4 linked regions of the Homo sapiens genome follow. The protein of the gene in region 2 interacts with the protein of the main gene of each other region in a pairwise test. Each region holds a gene or a part of one and is shown on either strand. Other genes may lie near its edges.

Region 1 (5,270 bases), on a different chromosome or scaffold from region 2:
AGATGCTGGTGAAAATGGGGAGAAAAGGGAACTCTGATATGCTGTTGGGTAAACTAGCACAGCTGCTATGGAGAATAACATGGAGGTTCCTCAGAAAACTACAAGTAGAACTACTCACATGATCTAGCAATCCCATTACTTAAAATCTATCCAAAGGAAAGGAAATCATTATATCAAAGAGAAATCTGCACCCTCATGTTTATAGCTGCACTATTCAGAATAGCCAATATGGAATTGACCTATGTGTCCAACAATAGATGAATGAATAAGGAAAACGTGGTATATGTACACAATGGAATGCTATTTGGCCATAAAAAAAAATGAAATCCTGTCATTTGCAGCAACTTGGATGGAATTGGAGGATATTAAGTGAAATAAGCCAGGCACAGAAAGATAAACACCACATGTTCTCAGTCACATGTGGAACCTAGAAAAAGTTGATGTAATAGAAGTAAAAGGTAGAACAGAGGATGCTAGAGGCTGGGAAGGGGAGGGGAAGGTGGTGATAGGGAGGGATTTGTTAAAGGATTCAAGATTATAGCCAGATGGGAGGACTAAGTACTAGGGTTTCACACCACTGTAGGTTGACTACAGTTAACAATAATAGACCAGGCATGGTGGCTCATGCCTGTAATCCCAGCACTTTGGGAGGCCAAGGTGGGCAGATTGCTTGAGCTCAGGAGCTCGAGAACATGGTGAAACCCCCACTCTACTAAAATACAAAAAAATTGCCGGGCTTGGTGGTGTGTGCCTGTAATCCCAGCTATTTGGGAGGCTGAGGCAGGAAAACTGCTTGACCCAGGAGGTGGAGGTTGCAGTGAGCTGAGATGGTGCCACTGCACTCCAGCCTGGGTGACAGAGCAAGACTCCGTCACACACACACACAAAATAATAATAGTAATAATATATAGTTTCAAATAGCTAGAGGGAGGATTGAACCTTCCCAACACAAAGAAATGATAAATGTTTGAGATGATGGATATGCTAATTACCCTAATCTGAAATTATACATTGTATGTATGAAACATGACTGTGCACCCTATGAATATGTACAATTATTATTTGTTAATTAAAATAATACAACTTTAAAACACATGGTCTTAAACATTATCGTTTTTGCACACTCTGAAGCATATATTTTGCATCCTGACATCATGTCATAAGTGAAAAGATAAGAGACTTTCATTATTACTGCTCCAAATGCATGAATGCTCAATAACCTGTGATCTATTTTTCATAATTCACATTTATAAAAAGTAACTTTGGAACTTCAGTCATTGTCAGCTAGCAGACAGTTTTTCCTGCTCCACAATTAAATAAGTCAGTATTCTTGGAAGTATTGTACAAGTTGTTTGGGAGCTCCCTACACATTGCCACTGGATAAGAAGACCTGAAACCCAGCCATGTGTGATGGCTTACACATATAATCCCAGCATTTTGGGAGGCCGAGGCGGGCAGATCACCTGAGGTCAGGAGTTCGAGACCAGCATGGCCAACATGGTGAAACCCCGTCTTTACTAAAAATACAAAAATTAGCTGGACATGGTGGCATACACCTGTGGTCCCAGCTACTCAGTAGGCTGAGGCAGGAGAATCACTGGAACCTGGGGCGGGTAGGCTGCAGTGAGCCAAGATGGTGCCACTACACTCCAGCCTGGGTGACAGAGCGAAACTCTTTCTCAAAAACAAACAAACAAATAAAAACCCTGAAACTTGTCTTTCAGCAGAGGGATTTTAGTGAGTTAGTATCAAGGGGTCATCACTTCCTTTTCTTCTTGGATAGCTGACACAAGACAGGAAGACTAAGGGCTCTTTCTGATATCTGAAGATCCCTTTCAGGAAACCCATTCTGTTGTGTTTCTTAAGGTGTGATAAAGCTTGTCCAGCCTCCACACCGTATAAAGTTCTCCTTTATACACCCATGTATCAGCAGAGCTGCCCTGTAGGTAGGATTCTTACTCCCACGTGGCCAGTGAGTAGCAAGCAAGGCCCCAAGTAAGGTCTTTGGGTGCTGTCTGTTCTTTCATGAGAGTCACTTTGATATGAGAAAGGGGTTGGGGAAAGATGCCTGAGTCTGGGCGTGGGCTGGGAGGGAAGCACATTTAGGGTGCTGAAACCACATCTTATTTCGTGTGCCATTTTGCTCAGGGCCAGCCCGAAGTGAGAATGGCTTTTCTCGGTCAATTCCTAGTTTTGCCACCATCATCCTTACACCCGAATCCTAGTAAGTCTGTTCTCCACTGAACTGAGCTGAGTGCAGCTGACAGCAGGCACGGCGGTGCCCCATTTGCCACCCCAGGGAGGCCGAGCAGCGGAGAGTGTGTGGCCACGGCCCCTCCACTCTCCCAGCAAACCCACGGGGGCCTCGGTGCGGACAGAGACCCGGTGTGGGGAGGCCGCTGCCCCTGCACGCTGGGCCACGGGGGTTTGGGCGGGGAGGAGCTTGTACTGGGTGGGCGGGGAGGAGCCCGGACGGCGGGAGCGGCTGCGGCGCGCGGGCGCCCTCGGAGCCGCGTGCTGGGGGTCGTAGGGGCCCACCGCGCTCAGCCAGACGTTCAGACGCTCGGACAAGCATGGTCTATAACCCAGGAAAGGGGAGCAGGGCCACTCCCGCGGGCGGCCCCAGCGATGAACCGGACGCCCCCACCCTGCCGGGAAAAAAGCAGTGGCGGTCAGGCCGCGCTGTCTCTTTAAGATCGTGTTCCTACTAACACTGACGGTGAGTAACCTGGCCCTGGGTCCCGGGAGACATCCCGAGGTAGGATGGGCCCTTGGCCTCCTACGGATAGGCGGGTGAGAGTACAAATCTCTGGGCGTGGAATTTGGGGAAGTTATGAATGGGGGGAGGGTCGGGTTCCGATTTGAGCCAAAGCCCCCAGGTACCTTGTACATTTTAACAGGGCTCCTAGAGAGGGCGGGGAGACGAAGCAAGGCCAAGTTCCAAAGGGAGGATAGGCCCAGCTGGCTTCAGCGTCCACACGGCATAGTCCTTCATGAATGTTGGTAAGCGCGGTAGCTTGTGAATTAGGGTGAGTGGCAGAAGCTCGGGCTTCACGGGTGGGTGGGGAGGCAGTGGAACTGACCACTGCCGGCTGTCAGGTAGGCCTTGGGCACCTGGTTCTGCAGACAGTTTTCTGAACTAAGAAGTGAAGCTAGCCTGCCCACACACGGGGTATCCACTAGCCCCTTAGGAGCAGAGAGGGCACCGTAGCAAGCAGCTGGCGGCACTGTGCCTCTCTTGCGCTCCCTGGGCAGAGAGGGAGAGGCTGAGTGATGAGGCTCACTTCATACTGGGTGAGCAGAATGAAGACTGTGAAGTCACAGAGGAAGTGGAATGCTACAACTGGCTGCCGGGGCAGAGGAAAGGTGTCACCCAGGCAGGTTCAGGGCTTTCTGGCTATAAAAGGGAGCCTCTGGGATCAGCAGGTCATATCTGGTGCCCATGGTTGACTGAGGAGTCGGGTGAGGCCACCCTACCACAAGGGTCCCCCTCCCCATCCTACACAGGAATGAAAACAGTCCCATGTACACTTTCTGGAAGCCTAAATACCACCCACACCATGTGGAAGGAAAGCAGGAGAGAGACTGAGTGGCACATCCTTTCGCCCTCTTTTCTCTCGAACCTCCTCCCAGGCCGACCACCCTTGCTGTGTCCAAGCCAAGCTCTGTGGGCTTTCTGTTCCTCCTGAGTAGCTGATTTTCAGAATTTGGGGTACCAGGGCTCTGGGGAATGTGAGCTAGAGAGCAGATAAGTCTGGAAGATGACCACTGACTCCTACTCTCCTACTTCTCCAGATGCAGAGGCCTCCATGGCTGTGATAAGCCTGCTGTTCTTGGCAGTGATGTATGTTGTTCACCACCCTCTGATGGTCAGTGATCGGATGGACCTGGACACATTAGCCAGGAGTCGGCAGCTGGAGAAGCGAATGAGTGAGGAGATGCGCCTGCTAGAGATGGAGTTTGAAGAGAGAAAGCGAGCCGCTGAGCAGAGGCAGAAGGCAGAGAACTTCTGGACAGGAGACACATCCAGTGACCAGTTAGTGCTGGGGAAGAAAGACATGGGGTGGCCGTTCCAGGCCGATGGCCAGGAAGGGCCTCTGGGCTGGATGCTGGGAAACCTGTGGAACACTGGCCTCTTTTGCCTTTTTCTCGTCTTTGAGCTCCTGCGACAGAACATGCAGCATGAACCGGCCTTTGATTCCAGCAGTGAGGAGGAGGAGGAGGAAGTCCGTGTTGTCCCTGTCACCTCTTACAACTGGCTTACTGACTTCCCCTCCCAGGAGGCCCTGGACTCCTTTTACAAACACTATGTCCAAAATGCCATCCGTGACCTGCCCTGCACCTGTGAGTTTGTGGAGAGTTTTGTGGATGATCTCATTGAGGCCTGTCGGGTGCTCAGCCGCCAAGAGGCTCACCCACAATTGGAAGACTGCCTGGGCATCGGGGCTGCCTTTGAGAAATGGGGAACCCTCCATGAGACCCAGAAATTTGATATCCTGGTGCCCATTGTCCCCCCACAGGGCACCATGTTTGTCCTGGAGATGAGGGACCCAGCCCTGGGCCGCCGCTGTGGCTGTGTGCTGGTGGAGTCAGAATGTGTGTGCAAGCGTGAGAAACTCCTAGGGGACGTGCTGTGCCTGGTGCACCACCACAGGGACCCCTCGGCAGTCTTGGGGAAGTGTAGTAGCTCCATCAAGGCAGCTCTCTGCACCGGCTTCCACCTAGACGTGTGCAAGACTGTGCAGTGGTTCCGGAACATGATGGGCAATGCCTGGGCCCTTGTGGCCCACAAGTATGACTTTAAACTCAGTCTCCCACCGTCTACCACCTCCTGCAAGCTCCGGCTGGACTATCGCTCAGGCCGCTTTCTCTCAATCCACTTGGTCCTGGGGGTGCAACGAGAAGACACCTTGGTCTACCTGGTGAGTCAGGCTCCTGACCAGGAGCAGCTCACCAGTGTGGACTGGCCTGAGTCCTTTGTGGCCTGTGAGCACCTGTTCCTGAAGCTGGTGGGGCGCTTTGCCCCCGAGAACACCTGTCACCTCAAGTGCCTCCAGATCATTTTAAGTCTCCGGCAGCATCAGAGCTTACCCCATGGAGCATCCCGCCCCATCCTCACTTCTTACCATTTTAAAACAGCTCTCATGCACCTCTTGCTACGGCTGCCCCTCACGGACTGGGCCCACAACATGCTCTCTCAGCGGCTCCAGGACATTCTCTGGTTCTTGGGCCGTGGCCTCCAGCAAAGGTCCCTCCATCATTTCCTCATT
Region 2 (5,635 bases):
TCAATGATCTGACATAGACTGATGAGTCCAATTACCCTCTGATGAACTAATATTTAAATAAACTTCTTAAAAAAAGATACAGAGTATTGCTATGTTGCCCAGGCTGGCGTGGAACTCTTGGGCTCAAGTAATTCTCCCACCTCAGCCTCCCAATTAGCTGGGACTACAGGCTTGCACCACCACACCTAGCTATTCAATGAACTTTAAAGACTGAAAAGCCAGTCAAAGGAAAGTCAAGGCAGTTTGGGGCAGTGGATCGGTGAGGCCTCCCAAGTTTGTACTGGGTTTGAATCTACAGTCTACTACTTAATATGTGTATGAATTTGATCACATTATTAATATGAGTCTCAGTATCTTCTGGTTTTTTTTTTTTTTTTTAAGACATAGGCCAGGCGCGGTGGCTCACGCCTGTAATTCCAGCACTTTGGGAGGCAAAGGCAGGCGAATCATGAGGTCAGGAGTCCAAGACCAGTCTGGCCAACATAATGAAACCCCGTCTCTACTAAAAATACAAAAAATTAGCTGGGTGTGGTGGTGTGCACCTGTAATCCCAGCTACTCAGGAGGCTGAGGCAAGAGAATTGTGTGAACCCAGGGGGCGGAGGTTGCAGTGAGCTGAGATTGCACCACTGCACTCCAGCCGGGGCAACAGTGCAAGACACTGTCTCAAAAAAAAAAAAAAAAAAAAAAAAAAGACAGTTTCCCTCTGTCGCCCAGGCTGGACTGCAGTGGCAAGATCTCAGCTCACTGCAACCTCTGCCTCGCAGATTCAAGAGATTCTTCCACCTCAGCTTCCCAAGTAGCTGGGACTACAGGCATGCACCACCACACGCGGCTATTTTTTGTACCCTTTTTTTTTTTTTTTTTTTTGAGACGAAGTCTCACTCTTATCCCACAGGCTGGAGTGCGATGGCACGATTCAGCTCACTGCAACCTCCACCTCCCAGGTTCAAGCGATTCTCCCGCCTCAGCCTTCCGAGTAGCTGGGGATTACAGGCATGCACCACCACACCTGGCAAATCTTGTATCTTTAGTAGAGACGGGGTTTCTCCATGTTGGTCAGGCTGGTCTCAAACTCCTGACCTCATGTGATCCACCCGCCTCGGCCTCCCAGAGTGCCGGGATTAGCAGCATGAGCCACCATGCCTGGCCAGCATCTTCATTTTTTAAAAAAAGGATAATAATAGTGCTTTCATCATAAAGTTATGTGACATTTTAAAAAAATATAATGCATCATGCCTTATAAATCATGCCTGCAATAAATATTGGCCATTATGTCATTGTCATTAACAGCATTTGCAAAGGTTCAAAAAGGGGAAGAAAGAGCCAGTGATATTTGAGGGTAGGGGAAGAGACAATACAAACTGGCTGAAATGCAATGAAAACAGGAGAAAAGGCAGGTGGAAGCACATCCTGAAAGCTTTATTAGCTGTGCTAATTCAGCAGTCACTAGCTACATATGGCTATTAAGCACCTGAAATGTGGCTACTTCAAACTGAGGTATGCTTAAGTGTAAATTACAAAATATATTTCAAAGACTTAGTATTTCAAAATGCAAGATATTTTATAGTCTTTATATCAATTGCACCTTAAAATATTTTAGACATACTGGGTTAAATAAAGCATATTAAAATTACAATAGCCAAAAGGTGGAAGCAACCCAAGCGACCAGCAACAGATCAATGGATTTTTAAAATGTGGTACATACATATAATGGAATATTATTCAGTCATACACAGTAAATTCTGGCTGGGTGCGGTGGCTCACACTTGTATAATCCTAGCATTTTGGGAGACCAAGGGGGCAGATCGCTTGAGCTCAGGAGTTTGAGACCAACCTGGGCAACATGGTGAAACCCTGTCTCTACAAAAAAATACAAAGTAGCCAAGCATGGTGATGTGAGCTTGCAGTCCCAGCTACTTGGGGGGCTAAGGCAGGAGGATCACTTGAACTTCAGGAGGTGGAGGCTGCAGCAAGCCATGATTGTGCCACTGCACTCCAGCCTGGGTGACAAAGTGAGACCTGTCTCAAAAAAAAAAAAAAAAGTAAATTCTGACACATGCTACAACATAAATGAACCTTGTGGACGTTATACTAAGGGAAATAAGTTAATCACAAAAGGCCAAACACTGTCTTATTCCACTTATATGAAATACCTAGAGTAGTCAAATTCAGAGACAGAAAGAAGAATGGTGGTTGCTAGAGGTGGGGGAATGGGGAAAATGGGGAGTTACTGTTTAAACGGTCCAGGGTTTCAGTTTTGCAAGATGAGTTCTGGAAACGGATGGTGGTAACAATTGTACAACAATGTGAATGTACTTAATGTCACTGAAGTGAACCCTTAAAAATGGTTAACATGATAAATTTTGTTATGTGTGAGTCACCACTATTGAAAAATTGACTTCAGTCCTTCCTTTTGATTAAAGTGGCTAATAGGAAAATTACATATGTGGCTCATACTGTTTTTTGTTTTTAAGAGACCAAGTCTCATTCTGTCACCACAGCTGGAATGCTGCGGTGCAATCATAGCTCAGTGTAACCTCCAAACTCCTGGGCTCAACCTTGCTGGACTAGCTGGGACTACAGGTGTGTGCCACCACACCTAGCTAAATTTTTATTTTTTTGTAGACAGGCTGGTCTCGAACTCCAGGAGGTGGGGGCTGCAGTGAGCCATGATCACTGAGCCATGGTGCTCAAGCAATCCTGCCACCTTGGCCCCGCAAAGTGTTGGGATTACAAGCATGAACCACTGAGCCCAGCTCACATTGTATTTCTATAAAAAATAAGTCATGGTAAAAATTTCCAATGAGAAGTGTTTTGATGAACAAGATATATTAACAGGAAGCCCTAATACCAGGGTAAGCAAACTTTCTGTTACGGGCTAGACAGTAAATATTTTTGGCTCTACCAGCCACATGGTCTATTCTGAAAGGAGCTATAGATAACACATAAGCAAATGGGCACAATAGATTTCGACTACCAGTTTGCTGGCCTCTGCCCTAAGGCACCCATTATAAGCAATGGCTCTTAAATTTTCATAAATTTTGTGAGCCAGTTTAATAACGGTATCTTGAAATCTGCCACAGTGAGAATATTTACATCATGGAAATCCAGCAAACACTACAAATCAGTGTTTTTCCTGAAGAACGGGTTGATAAACCAGCATTTACCAACAAACCACTCACTATGTAATGAATTAACTTCTCTCCTATACATCTAAAATTATATTCATTATGAACCATCTTTGAAAAGAAATGGATAGCTATTCATATCACTTTCTGTGCTCTGTGGTTCAGATGAGAATCTCCAGCTAAGAAAGGTGGTTCTAGAAGAGTAATGTTCCAGGCAGAGAAGCAAGAGTGAACATCATGAAGCAGTCAAGAGTTGTGCCTGGAGAGTGGTGACCTGGGGGGAACAGCTTAAGAGGAAGCTTCCACAAAAGGACTGGGAGCTACCAGATTATGTACATACTACACTCAGTAAAGGTTCAACAATAAGTAGTTATTACTGAATATGTATTATTGTACATAATGGACTAGATTCATCTGTAAATAATTTATTGAGCCCTAGGCTCTGGTAACACAATGGTGAACAATCACAGCCCCTCTCTAAAGAGAAGGAATCACATAAATATACAATTTTTAGTTGTGATGAATTCTTATCAAAAACAGGCTACTGTGAGAAATCCAACAGGGGATCCCAATCCAGTCTGGACAATCAGAAATAGATACTACCTGGAGAAACTGACCTTTGCATTAAGATTTAAAGATGGAAAAGGAATGGGCAAAGAGTGTTCTTGCATTCTAGGTAGCAAGAACAAACTGTACAGAAGTCCTCAGGCAGGAAAAAAAGTATTAACAGGTCAGGGAACTAGAAGGTCAATGTAGTCAGCCAAGCAAGCAAAGAAAGAAGGCATCTGCAAAAAATGGAGAGGGCATGGAACCGTATTACACAGGGCCTCGCTACTCCATTATATATTCTAAGACCAACAGGGAGCCATTAGCTTTACACAGAGGGTGGCATGCTCTGATTAACGTTTTTCAGAGATCACTCTTGGAATGGCTGGTGGGAGAGTTATAGAAGTCAGGCAACTGACCAGTAGGCTACTGCAGTTTCTAGGCAAGAGGTAATGGCAACTTATTGGAGCCACTACCCGATATTTTAAGTACGTAATCTATAAAATACGCCACCACAGAAATTTTTGCTCTCAGGACACCATTTTACAACTTCAGAACTCCAAAGAGTTTTGCTTGTTTAGGTTATAGCTGTTGATATTTATAATATTACAAATTAAAACTGAATAACCTTTAAAAATAAATTCATTTAAAAATAATACATTATATATTAATAAAAATAACATCCTTATGAAAAATAACTATTTTCTCAGTGATAAGAGTGGCATTATTTTAAATTTTTGGAAATCACTTTAGTCTTGTAATAGAAGACAGCTGGATTTTCACATCTGTTGTCATATCCCACACCTTAAAGACTCTAGCCAAGTGCACTGCCCAGTTTTGAGAAAATTAGACTGAAAAATAAAAATAACATCTCAGAATTACTATGAAAATAGTTTCATCTCATGGTACCCTTAACAGGGTATGGGGACTCCCCAAACCACAGTGAGAACTACTGCTCAGATAACAAAAAGCAAATTTGTCTAGCAGGCTGTCCAGTTTTCCTCAGAGTGCCCCCAGCAAAAATAATAATGAAAATAAAAAGCAAAATAATCACAGTAAGATACCATTTCACAGCCAGTAAGATGGCTATAATCACAAAGACAGTAATAAGTATTACCGAGAATGTGGTTATCGGAATCCTCATGCATTGCTAGTGGAAATGTAAAATGGTACAGACACCTTAGAAAATAATTTGGCAGCTCCTCATAAAGCTCAACATAGAGCTTTGACCCAGCAATTTCCACTCCAAGATCTACACCCAAGAAAAATGAAAACGTTATGTCCCCACAAAAACTTATACATGAGTGTTCAGAGGCATTAGTCACAATAGCCAGAAAGTAGAAACAACCCAATGTCCACCACGTGATAGAAAAATAAAATGTGGAATGCTGTTGGCAACACAATGGAATGTTATTCGGCAATAAAAAGGAAGTAAGTACCGGCACATGCTTCAACAGGGATGAACCTTGAAAACACTATGCTAAGTGAAAGCCAATCACAAAAGACCACATGATTCCACTTACAACAAACGCCCAGAACAAGCAAATCTATAGACAAAAAATAGATCAGTAGTTGCCTAAGGCTGGGGGGCCCAGGGAGAAACGAAGGGCAACTGCTAAAGGGTACAGCGTTTCTTTTTGAGGGTTCTAAACGTTCTAAAATTGACTACACGACCCTGTGAATGTATTACATCAATTACAGACTTTAAAATGGTGAACTGTATGGTAGGCAAATTACACTTCAATTACGCTCTTTCTTAAAAAAAGCTAAGCAATCTCTGTTAATCAGAATCATTAAATAACGAGTTTTTCAGCTGTCCAGTATTAGAACAAAGCAAATAAGAAAACAATGATCTCACAGACATTTTTTTTCTCAGATATCTTGCTATACTGATTCAATCCAACCTTCTGGATAAGATGTTGTCCAGCAGAAATATATATAAGCCACAAGTAATTTAAA
Region 3 (3,508 bases), on a different chromosome or scaffold from region 2:
AAATGTCAAGGGTGTGGAATTTGAGTCCACCTGCCCTAGTGGTGATTCTCAGCCTTGGCTGCACATTAGACCAATGGTGGCGCTTTCGAAAGCCGGATGCCAGGTGGCGCCACACCCATCATGTCAGACTCTCTGGTGTCAGTGTTGGGTTTTTTAAAGCATGCCAGGTGGTTCCAATGTGCCACCAGGACAGAAACACTTCTATGCTCCTCACACTGCTGGCTCCTGCTGCTTTCCTGGGACCCGAGGGGAGGAGTGCCAAATCTGTCTCGGTTGTACAATCAACGGCAAGCCTGCTCCCAGTTCCTCCCCTTGAAGGGAACTGACTCAGTCACCCGTGGGGGGCCCCCGTGGGGTGGGAGGTGTTTGCTAATTTCCCGTCGCCTCTCATGGGGCTGCAGCCAGGAGTCTCCCCGCAAGGAGGCTGTGGAAGCTGCCTGAAGACTGGACCGAAGAGCGAGGCTGCCACCTAACGGAGGAATTGGCCAGAATCTCCCACGTGCTGAGTGATGTTTTATTTGAGCCTCACAACAACCCTGTGAGGTAGGTGCGGAGTCCCGCGGCACAGAAAGATGAGGCCTGCGCTCAAGGCCCCAGGGCGGGGCCGTGTGTGGGCCTGAGGTGCGCACTGTCTACTCCACATCAGGGCCCCGCCCTCCACCCCCCACATTCTCATACACACATTTGCCACAGGCAATGACTGGTTCAAGAGGAACGGGTCCCCTGGGCTGGGCTGCCTGCCTCTCTGCAGATGTCTAAACTTTCCCTCAACTTCCAGGCAGGGCCTGGGAACAGATTCCCTCCATGCTAGGCCATCATGGCTTCCCATGGAAATTAACAAATCACCATGTCCTACTACAGGTCCAACATCACAACAGGAAACAGCTTCCTCTGGTGTCCACCGCAGTCCCCTTCCCCCCCCCCCAGACTGTGGTCAATAAACATGGGCCTGGTGCACACTCAGGCAGAGGCTCCCCGCACACTGGAGCCGGCGGAGGCAGGTGCGGCCGTCCCTGACTCCAGCACATGAACACTGTGGACAGTCCACGTCAGCCCTCATTTTGCCTCTCTTTCTCTGGGCCTGAAGACAGCCCTGGGTGCTGAGCCATGCTGAGCCCTTCAGACCTGGCTGAGGGTTCTTGGGGGTCTTGGAGAAGCTGCCTTCTCTCCCCCTCTGTGGGGAAACCCTTCCTCTGGCTGCAAATGGAGTGAAGAAGAATTCCTGCACAGACACAAGGACAAGGGAAGAGAGGACGGAGGAGAAGGATGATGTTTAGAGACCTAGACATTCAGGCAGCCCCTCATCTCATCAACGGGATGTAATTTCCCCATTTTGTACATAAAGCAACTGAGGCACACAAACAGCCAGCAAATGGGATTAGAGGGCATCAAATCCCACCTGCGTGATTAGAGGGATAGAGGAAAGGGAAAGGGGAGTAGACTCACCTGCAGCCACAGAGACGTTCAAGGACTCAAGTCCAGGAGGCAGCTGGCGCCGGGGCAGGATGGTGAGGAGAAGCTGGCAGGAGGCCTGCACCTCCTGGGATAGACCTGAGCCCTCATTCCCTGCAGGGCGTGGGGCTGAGGGTTAGGGTTGCCCAGCTGGACACCCAGTTGCTCGGGAAATGTAATCTGGGCACAAACGCAGGGACATCCACCTACCCAGCACAAGGAGAGTAGGCCGTTCCCAGAGGAACTCCAAGCAACTCATGATGGGGATCTCGGAGGACTGGGGATCCTCTGTGCTTGGGCAGCCCACCGTGCCGGCCACGAGCCAGCCCTGCTGGGCTTTGGTCTGAAAGGGGGAAGAAGATATGTTCTAATTCTTTTTTTATTTTAATTTTGAGATAGGGTCTTACTCTCGCTCAGGCTGGAGTGCAGTGGCACGATCACAGCTCACCGCAGCCTCAACCGCCTGGGTTCTGGTGATCCTCCCACCTCAGCCTCCCAAGTAGCTGGGACTACAGGCACTCGCCACCCCACCCGGCTAGTTTTTGCATTTTTTTTTTTGAGATGAGGTTTTGCCATGTTGCCCTGGTTGGTCTGGAACTCCTGGCTTCAAGCGATCCTCCCACCTTGGCCTCCCAGAGTGCTAGGATTACAAGCGTCAGCCACCATGCCTGCCTCTCCTATTCTAATTCATCAAATCTTCATCAGAGGCTGTATGCAGTGGCTCAAGCCTGTAATTCCAGCACTTTGGGAGGCTGAAGCAGGCAGATTACCTGAGGTCAGGAGTTCAAAACTAGCCTGGCCCAGGCACGGTGGCTCACGCCTGTAATCCCCAGCACTTTGGGAGGCCAAGGCAGGGGGATCACCTGAGGTTGGGAGTTCGAGACCAGTCTGAACAACATGGAGAAACCCCGTCTCTACTAAAAATACAAAATTAGCCGGGCATGGTGGTGCATGCCTGTAATCCCAGCTACTCAGGAGGCTGAGGCAGGAGAATCGCTTGAACTCGGGAGGCAGAGGCTGCAGTCAACCGAGATTGCGCCATTGTACTCCAGCCTGGGCAGCAAGAGTGAAACTCCATCTCAAATTAAAAAAAAAAACAAAAAACCAGGCGCAGTAGCTCACGCCTGTAATCCCAGCACTTTGGGAGGCCGAGGCGGGCGGATCACCTGAGGTCAGGAGTTTGAGACCACCCTGGCTAACATGGTGAAACTCCGTCTCTACTAAAAACACACAAAAAATTAGCTGGGTGTGGTGGCACATGCCTGTAGTCCCAGCTATTTGGGAGTCTGAGGGAGGAGAATCGCTTGAACCCGGGAGGCGGAGGTTGCAGTGAGCTGAGAGCACACCACTGCCTCCAGCCTGGGCAACAAAGCGAGACTCCACTCTGTCTCAAAAAAAAAAAAAAGACTAGCCTGAGCATCATGGTGAAACTCTGTCTCTACTAAAAATACAAAAATCAGCCTGTAATCCCAGCTACTCAGGAGACACGAGGATCTCTTGAGACCAGGAGGCAGACATTGCAGCGAGCTAAGATTGCGCCACTGCACTCCTGCTTGGGTGACAGAGTGAGACCCCCATCTCAAAAAAAAAAAAAAAAATTATCCATCAGAGCCCTGGCCAAGGAAGAGCCCAGCCTTGCCCATACATTCATTTATCTGCTGATCCAGTCAATTAGTCAATAGTTATTAAGCACCTAGCATGGGCTCTGTTCTAGGCACTGAGGACAGGGCACTGAACAAAACAAAACAGACCAAAATCCCAGCCTTGTGGAAGGGCAGGTGGGGATGGACTCACTGAGGTGACATTTGAGTGCAGACCTGAAGGAGAAGGAGGAGCACCGTGCAGACATCTGGGGCAAGAACATTCTAGGCAGAGAGATCAGCAAGCACAGAGGCAGGTGCCTCCCTGGCATGTTTGAGAACAGTAAGGTGGCCAGTGGGAAGAGAGGCGTCAAGACAGAAGAAGGAACAAGAGCCACATGAGGTATGGTCTCCAGGGCTACTGGAAGGACTCTGCCTTTGAATCTGAGCGGTACAGAGGCTTTGAAAGGTTTTGA
Region 4 (4,567 bases), on a different chromosome or scaffold from region 2:
TCAAATTCTACCTTCTCCACACCACATAGACTGTATGTAATGTAAATGTAGAGAAATTATTACTCCATAGCTTTATTTTCATCTTTTTATGGAGATAACAATAGCATTTATCTGGTAGGGTTTTGGAGAAGGTTTCATTAGAATGGCTCTTGTACCAGCCAGCTTTTTCTAGGTTATATGGCCATAAAAATGGATCTAAAATATGAATAGCTTATACTTACAGAAGTTTATTTCTCATTCATATTTATGTTCATCATGGATTTTTAAATCCTGTCCACAAAAGTAAATTATAGTTTGGGATTCTGCTAAACTGTAGATATTACCCTCTGCTAGGGGAGAAAAGATTAATATTTATGTGTTTGTCATATGGTCCTCTTAAGAATAAAATTAAAGTGATGAATGCTTCTTTTAATCTTTCCAGGGAAGGTGGTCTATGGTGAACCCATAGCAGCCAGTCTTGGCACAGATGGCACTCACTACTGGAATAAAGAATGGCACCATGCAGCCCACCATGTCATGGGTCCACCTTTGCGACCAGACCCCTCAACACCCGACTTCCTCATGAATCTGTTGGCTAAGTAATCATTTTGCAGATGACTGGGAAGTGTATTGCCAAAAGAAGGTTTGGGTAGAAGGGAGCTCGTCCTCCCATCTGGATCCTCCACTAACCTCCCAGTATTCTCTTCTACTTGACCTGTCAGGTCCTGGGTACCCCTCACCTGCAGAGCAAAAAACATTGACTTAATTATGCTGTGATATGTTGTCAAAGCCTTTCCTAGACTCTCAGAAATCAGATCGTTTTCACTGAAACTTTACTCTTTTCTGACTTTTTTCATCTCTTGTTGCCCAAACCCAGGGCTCTTCATTACACCTTACTTTTTATCAGAATATTGTTGAATTTTTTTCTATGCTGATATAATATGGGAACTAGGTTAACCCTGTTACTTTCTGGGAACATATGATCATTTTTCTTGAAAATTCTACCATTCTTGGGCCAGATGCAGTGGCTCATGCTTGTAATCCCAGCACTTTGGGAGGCTGAGGTGGGCGGATCACATGAGGCCAGGAGTTTGAGACAAGCCTGGTGAACATGGCAAATCCCCATCTCTACTAAAAATACAAAAATTGGCTGGGCGTGGTGGCTTATGCCTGTAATCCCAGTTACTCGGGAGGCTGAGGCACGAGAATCACTTGAACCCAGGAGGCAGAGGTTGCAGTGAGCAGAGATAGTGCCACTGCACTCCAACCTGAGTGACAGAGCAAGACTCTGTCTCGAAAAAAAAAAGAAAAGAGAAAAGAAAATTCTATCCTTCATGGACATCCCGACACTCCCCATTCACAGATACTCAGTCTCAAGCTAAGAGTTTTTCATGACAGACCGTACAAGAGTTCACTTACCCATTCTTTTCAGCTTCCTTCCTCCTTCATGATTCAGCATCCCCAAGATTACTCACAAGTCAAAGCAGGATTCCTGTCCCTGGTAATATCAGCATCGCCAGCCAGTCTCACCCTCTGTTCATCCCAGTGTGGCCGTGTGGCTAGGGACTGCCCCGGAGGGCCTGCCCTCCATTCATGAGGATCACCATGGTGATGTCTTTGTGGATGCAGCATTCTGCTCACAAGGAGTTTTCTCTCACATATTTGCTGGTGATTCTGAAGTTATCTTCATCAAGTACATGTGACTATTCATTTCTAGATGAGAAATGGAGTCTCGGACAAGCTCATATCACAGAGCTAGTTAAGTGATGGAGCTGAGCTTAGAACTCAGGTTTCCTAACCCATCTTGGATCATGCTTCCGATCAGTGTGTCCTCTGAAAGTGCTTCCTAGAATAGAGACAGGAGAGGGATGAAATATGTTCTTGAAAAAACTGCTCATTCTCCATTGGATTTTTCTGACTTCAATTGAGAAGGGAGCCAGGAGATTAGGAAAGGTTATGGCAGTTTCCTCCTAACATATTCTGTATACTCACCCCATCACTCTCGTGTTTTTTCTTTTACAGTGATGATCTAACCACAACAGGGACTGATAACTGCACTTTCAACACCTGCCAGAAAGCTCTTGGGAAGGATGATTTTACCAAGATCCCCAATGGGGTGAATGGTGTTGAAGATCGGATGTCCGTAATATGGGAAAAAGGCGTGGTGGGTTTCACAGGTTCCAGCCTTGCTTTGCCTAGTTCTTCAGCCAGGATCCTGCCCATTTGAGGACCAGAGTGGCACAAATTTTCATAGAGAAGCTTTTTGATTGTTTTTACTAGGGAGGATACTAGGAATGCAATACTATCACCTCGACCACCATTCCATCCCTCAGTATAGCATCAGCAAAGAAATAATCTTCTCTGCATAGTTTATTTTAGTTTAGACGATGCATCGCACTATTTTGCGGAGACATTAGAGGATGAATTAAGATTGCATACAAAGAGGGTTATTCTTCAATTCTCTGAAATGGCATAGCCCTTCTGCTTGATTTCTCATGCTCTTGAATTCCAGTGCGTCATGTGTCATTGGCACGAATGCTTGAAATGATAAAAAATACACGAAGGGGCAGGGTGCAGTGGCTCACACCTGTAATCCCAGCACTTTGGGAGGCCAAGGCAGGTGGATCACTTGAGGTCAGGAGTTCAAGACCAACCTGGCTAACATGGTGAAACCCCATCTCTACTAAAAATACAAAAGTTAGCCGGGCATGGTGGCACGTGGCTGTAATCCCAGCTACTCAGGAGGCTGAGGCAGGAGAATTGCTTGAACTTGTGAGGCAGAGGTTGTGGTGAGTCAAGATGGCACCATTGCACTCTAGCCTGGGGCAACACAGTGAGACTCCATCACAAAAAAAAAAAAATACACGAAGCGTATTCGTTATGCTCATACCTCCTTTCCATGAAATCTTTGTTGATGTCAGTTCTTTTTTTTTTTTTTTTTTTGAGACGGAGTCTCACTCTGTTGCCCGGACTGGAGTGCAGTGGTGCAATCTTGGCTCACTGCAACCTCCACCTCCTGGGTTCAAGTGATTCTCCTGCCTCAGCCTCCCAAGTAGCTGGGATTACAGATGTGCACCACCATGACTGGCAAATTTTTGTATTTTTAATAGAGAGGGGGTTTCACCATGTTGGCCAGGCTGGTTTCAAACTCCTGACCTCAGGTGATCCACCCGCCTTCGCCTCCCGAAGTGTTGGGATTGACAGGCGTGAGCCACCGTGCCCAGCCTGATGTCACTTCTTAAAGAATCCTTGGATATCATGTTTTTAAAATTGCTATATGAAGTCACAAAAGTAATAATTTAAAGTCTGGAAAAAAATTTAAATGTCCATGACTACAAAACTTCTCCCTGAGGACGGAGAAGAATCACATGACTAAATGTCTATGTGTTAACTTGTCCAGCCAGTTGACATGTGGAGCTGTGAAGACTAGCAGAGGGGACTTGCCTGGTTAGACTTCTGGTCCCCAGTGTCATGCCCTTTTCACCCATCTCCTAGGATGCCTCCCTCAAATGACACATTAATTATATCTCACACTTCAGAATCCTCTTCAATTGCTTTTACCCTACACATACCACCTACTTCTAACTCTAATGAATTATTCACCAAGTCTTGTCAATTTTGTTTCCAAAGGGCCTCCTTATTTCTTTCTTCGTTGCTACCATTCTAGTTGGAGGCTCATATTTTGTTTGGACCTTTGCAGTAATCTCACAGCTGGTCCCCATCTCCAGAGTCTCACTTGCTACAGTGTATTCTTTACTCCAGTACAAGAACTCTTGTTCTGTACTGAGAACAGCTGACAATGCTTTTATTATTATTTTTACAATATTATAGAGGGAGGATAGGTTTTGAATGGGAGTTCTCATTTAGAAATAAAGTTCTGTTTGTGCTATTGTTCTCTCAAAAACCCTTTACTTGCCTCCATTACTTATTGGATGATAGTTGAATCATTAACTTACAATTAGATCTTCAAAACATCTCTATAGCCTCATCTTCTGCTGATTATTTTCCTCACCCCCCTTCCTCCACCCTAACTCTAACCATCCCAGATGACTTCTCTTCACTTAGATTTTCTTGATAAAAGTTCAAGCTTCCACTTGAACTTCTGTTTTACAATGAATATCTTTATTATAGCAGATTTTCATAATCTATATAGTTCCCTGGTATATAAATGGCTTTACAGTGACTGAATAGTTCTTAATAATATATAGAAAACCATGTCATTTTATGAAACATTAATATGGTTTACTTATGGGAATATTACTTTCAGGGCATGGTTCTTAGTCATTTTTAAGGCAAGCATTGTTTGATAATTAAATAAACCTTTAGTACCCTCTTACCATATAAATAGGGATAAACCCCTAACACTTTCCAATTTTATTTTAGAGGAGCCACACCCCTCTGAATTCTGTCCACATTAAAATCTCTTGCAATAGACTATCCATAATTGTTGGTTCATGTAAAACTTCAATTGCATAAAATTGAACCTCTTGAGTTGTTTTTTTATCTTTTCAAAAGGATTGCATCTGGGTGTGGTGGCTTATGCCTGTAATCCTAACACTTTGGGGAGGCTAAGGCAGGTGGATTGCCT

The links. Proteins that work in one complex are often made in the same cells at the same time.
Region 1: the proteins of UBQLN1 (region 2) and ITPRIPL1 interact in binary tests that used the Homo sapiens proteins (3 or more experiments, as listed by UniProt).
Region 3: the proteins of UBQLN1 (region 2) and MRM1 interact in binary tests that used the Homo sapiens proteins (3 or more experiments, as listed by UniProt).
Region 4: the proteins of UBQLN1 (region 2) and DPYS interact in binary tests that used the Homo sapiens proteins (3 or more experiments, as listed by UniProt).

Annotation. Positions count from the first base shown.
Region 1 is NC_000002.12:96,322,847-96,328,116, forward strand, and holds the start of ITPRIPL1 (inositol 1,4,5-trisphosphate receptor-interacting protein-like 1), read left to right. Parts: upstream 1-2,470; 5' UTR 2,471-2,719; exon of another isoform or gene 2,720-2,900; 5' UTR 2,901-2,993; coding exon 2,994-3,003; intron 3,004-3,350; exon of another isoform or gene 3,351-3,761; coding exon of another isoform or gene 3,762-3,795; coding exon 3,796-5,270. UniProt on the Homo sapiens protein: Functions as a ligand of CD3E, inhibiting TCR-CD3 complex signaling to regulate T cell activation.
Region 2 is NC_000009.12:83,696,885-83,702,519, forward strand, and holds part of UBQLN1 (ubiquilin-1), read right to left. Parts: intron 1-5,635. UniProt on the Homo sapiens protein: Plays an important role in the regulation of different protein degradation mechanisms and pathways including ubiquitin-proteasome system (UPS), autophagy and endoplasmic reticulum-associated protein degradation (ERAD) pathway.
Region 3 is NC_000017.11:36,605,957-36,609,464, reverse strand, and holds the end of MRM1 (rRNA methyltransferase 1, mitochondrial precursor), read right to left. Parts: intron 1,796-3,508; coding exon 1,663-1,795; intron 1,567-1,662; coding exon 1,447-1,566; intron 1,223-1,446; coding exon 1,050-1,222; 3' UTR 501-1,049; downstream 1-500. UniProt on the Homo sapiens protein: S-adenosyl-L-methionine-dependent 2'-O-ribose methyltransferase that catalyzes the formation of 2'-O-methylguanosine at position 1145 (Gm1145) in the 16S mitochondrial large subunit ribosomal RNA (mtLSU rRNA), a universally conserved modification in the peptidyl transferase domain of the mtLSU rRNA.
Region 4 is NC_000008.11:104,425,556-104,430,122, reverse strand, and holds part of DPYS (dihydropyrimidinase), read left to right. Parts: exon of another isoform or gene 1-421; coding exon 422-578; exon of another isoform or gene 579-719; intron 720-1,398; exon of another isoform or gene 1,399-1,825; intron 1,826-2,001; coding exon 2,002-2,143; intron 2,144-4,567. UniProt on the Homo sapiens protein: Catalyzes the second step of the reductive pyrimidine degradation, the reversible hydrolytic ring opening of dihydropyrimidines. Can catalyze the ring opening of 5,6-dihydrouracil to N-carbamyl-alanine and of 5,6-dihydrothymine to N-carbamyl-amino isobutyrate.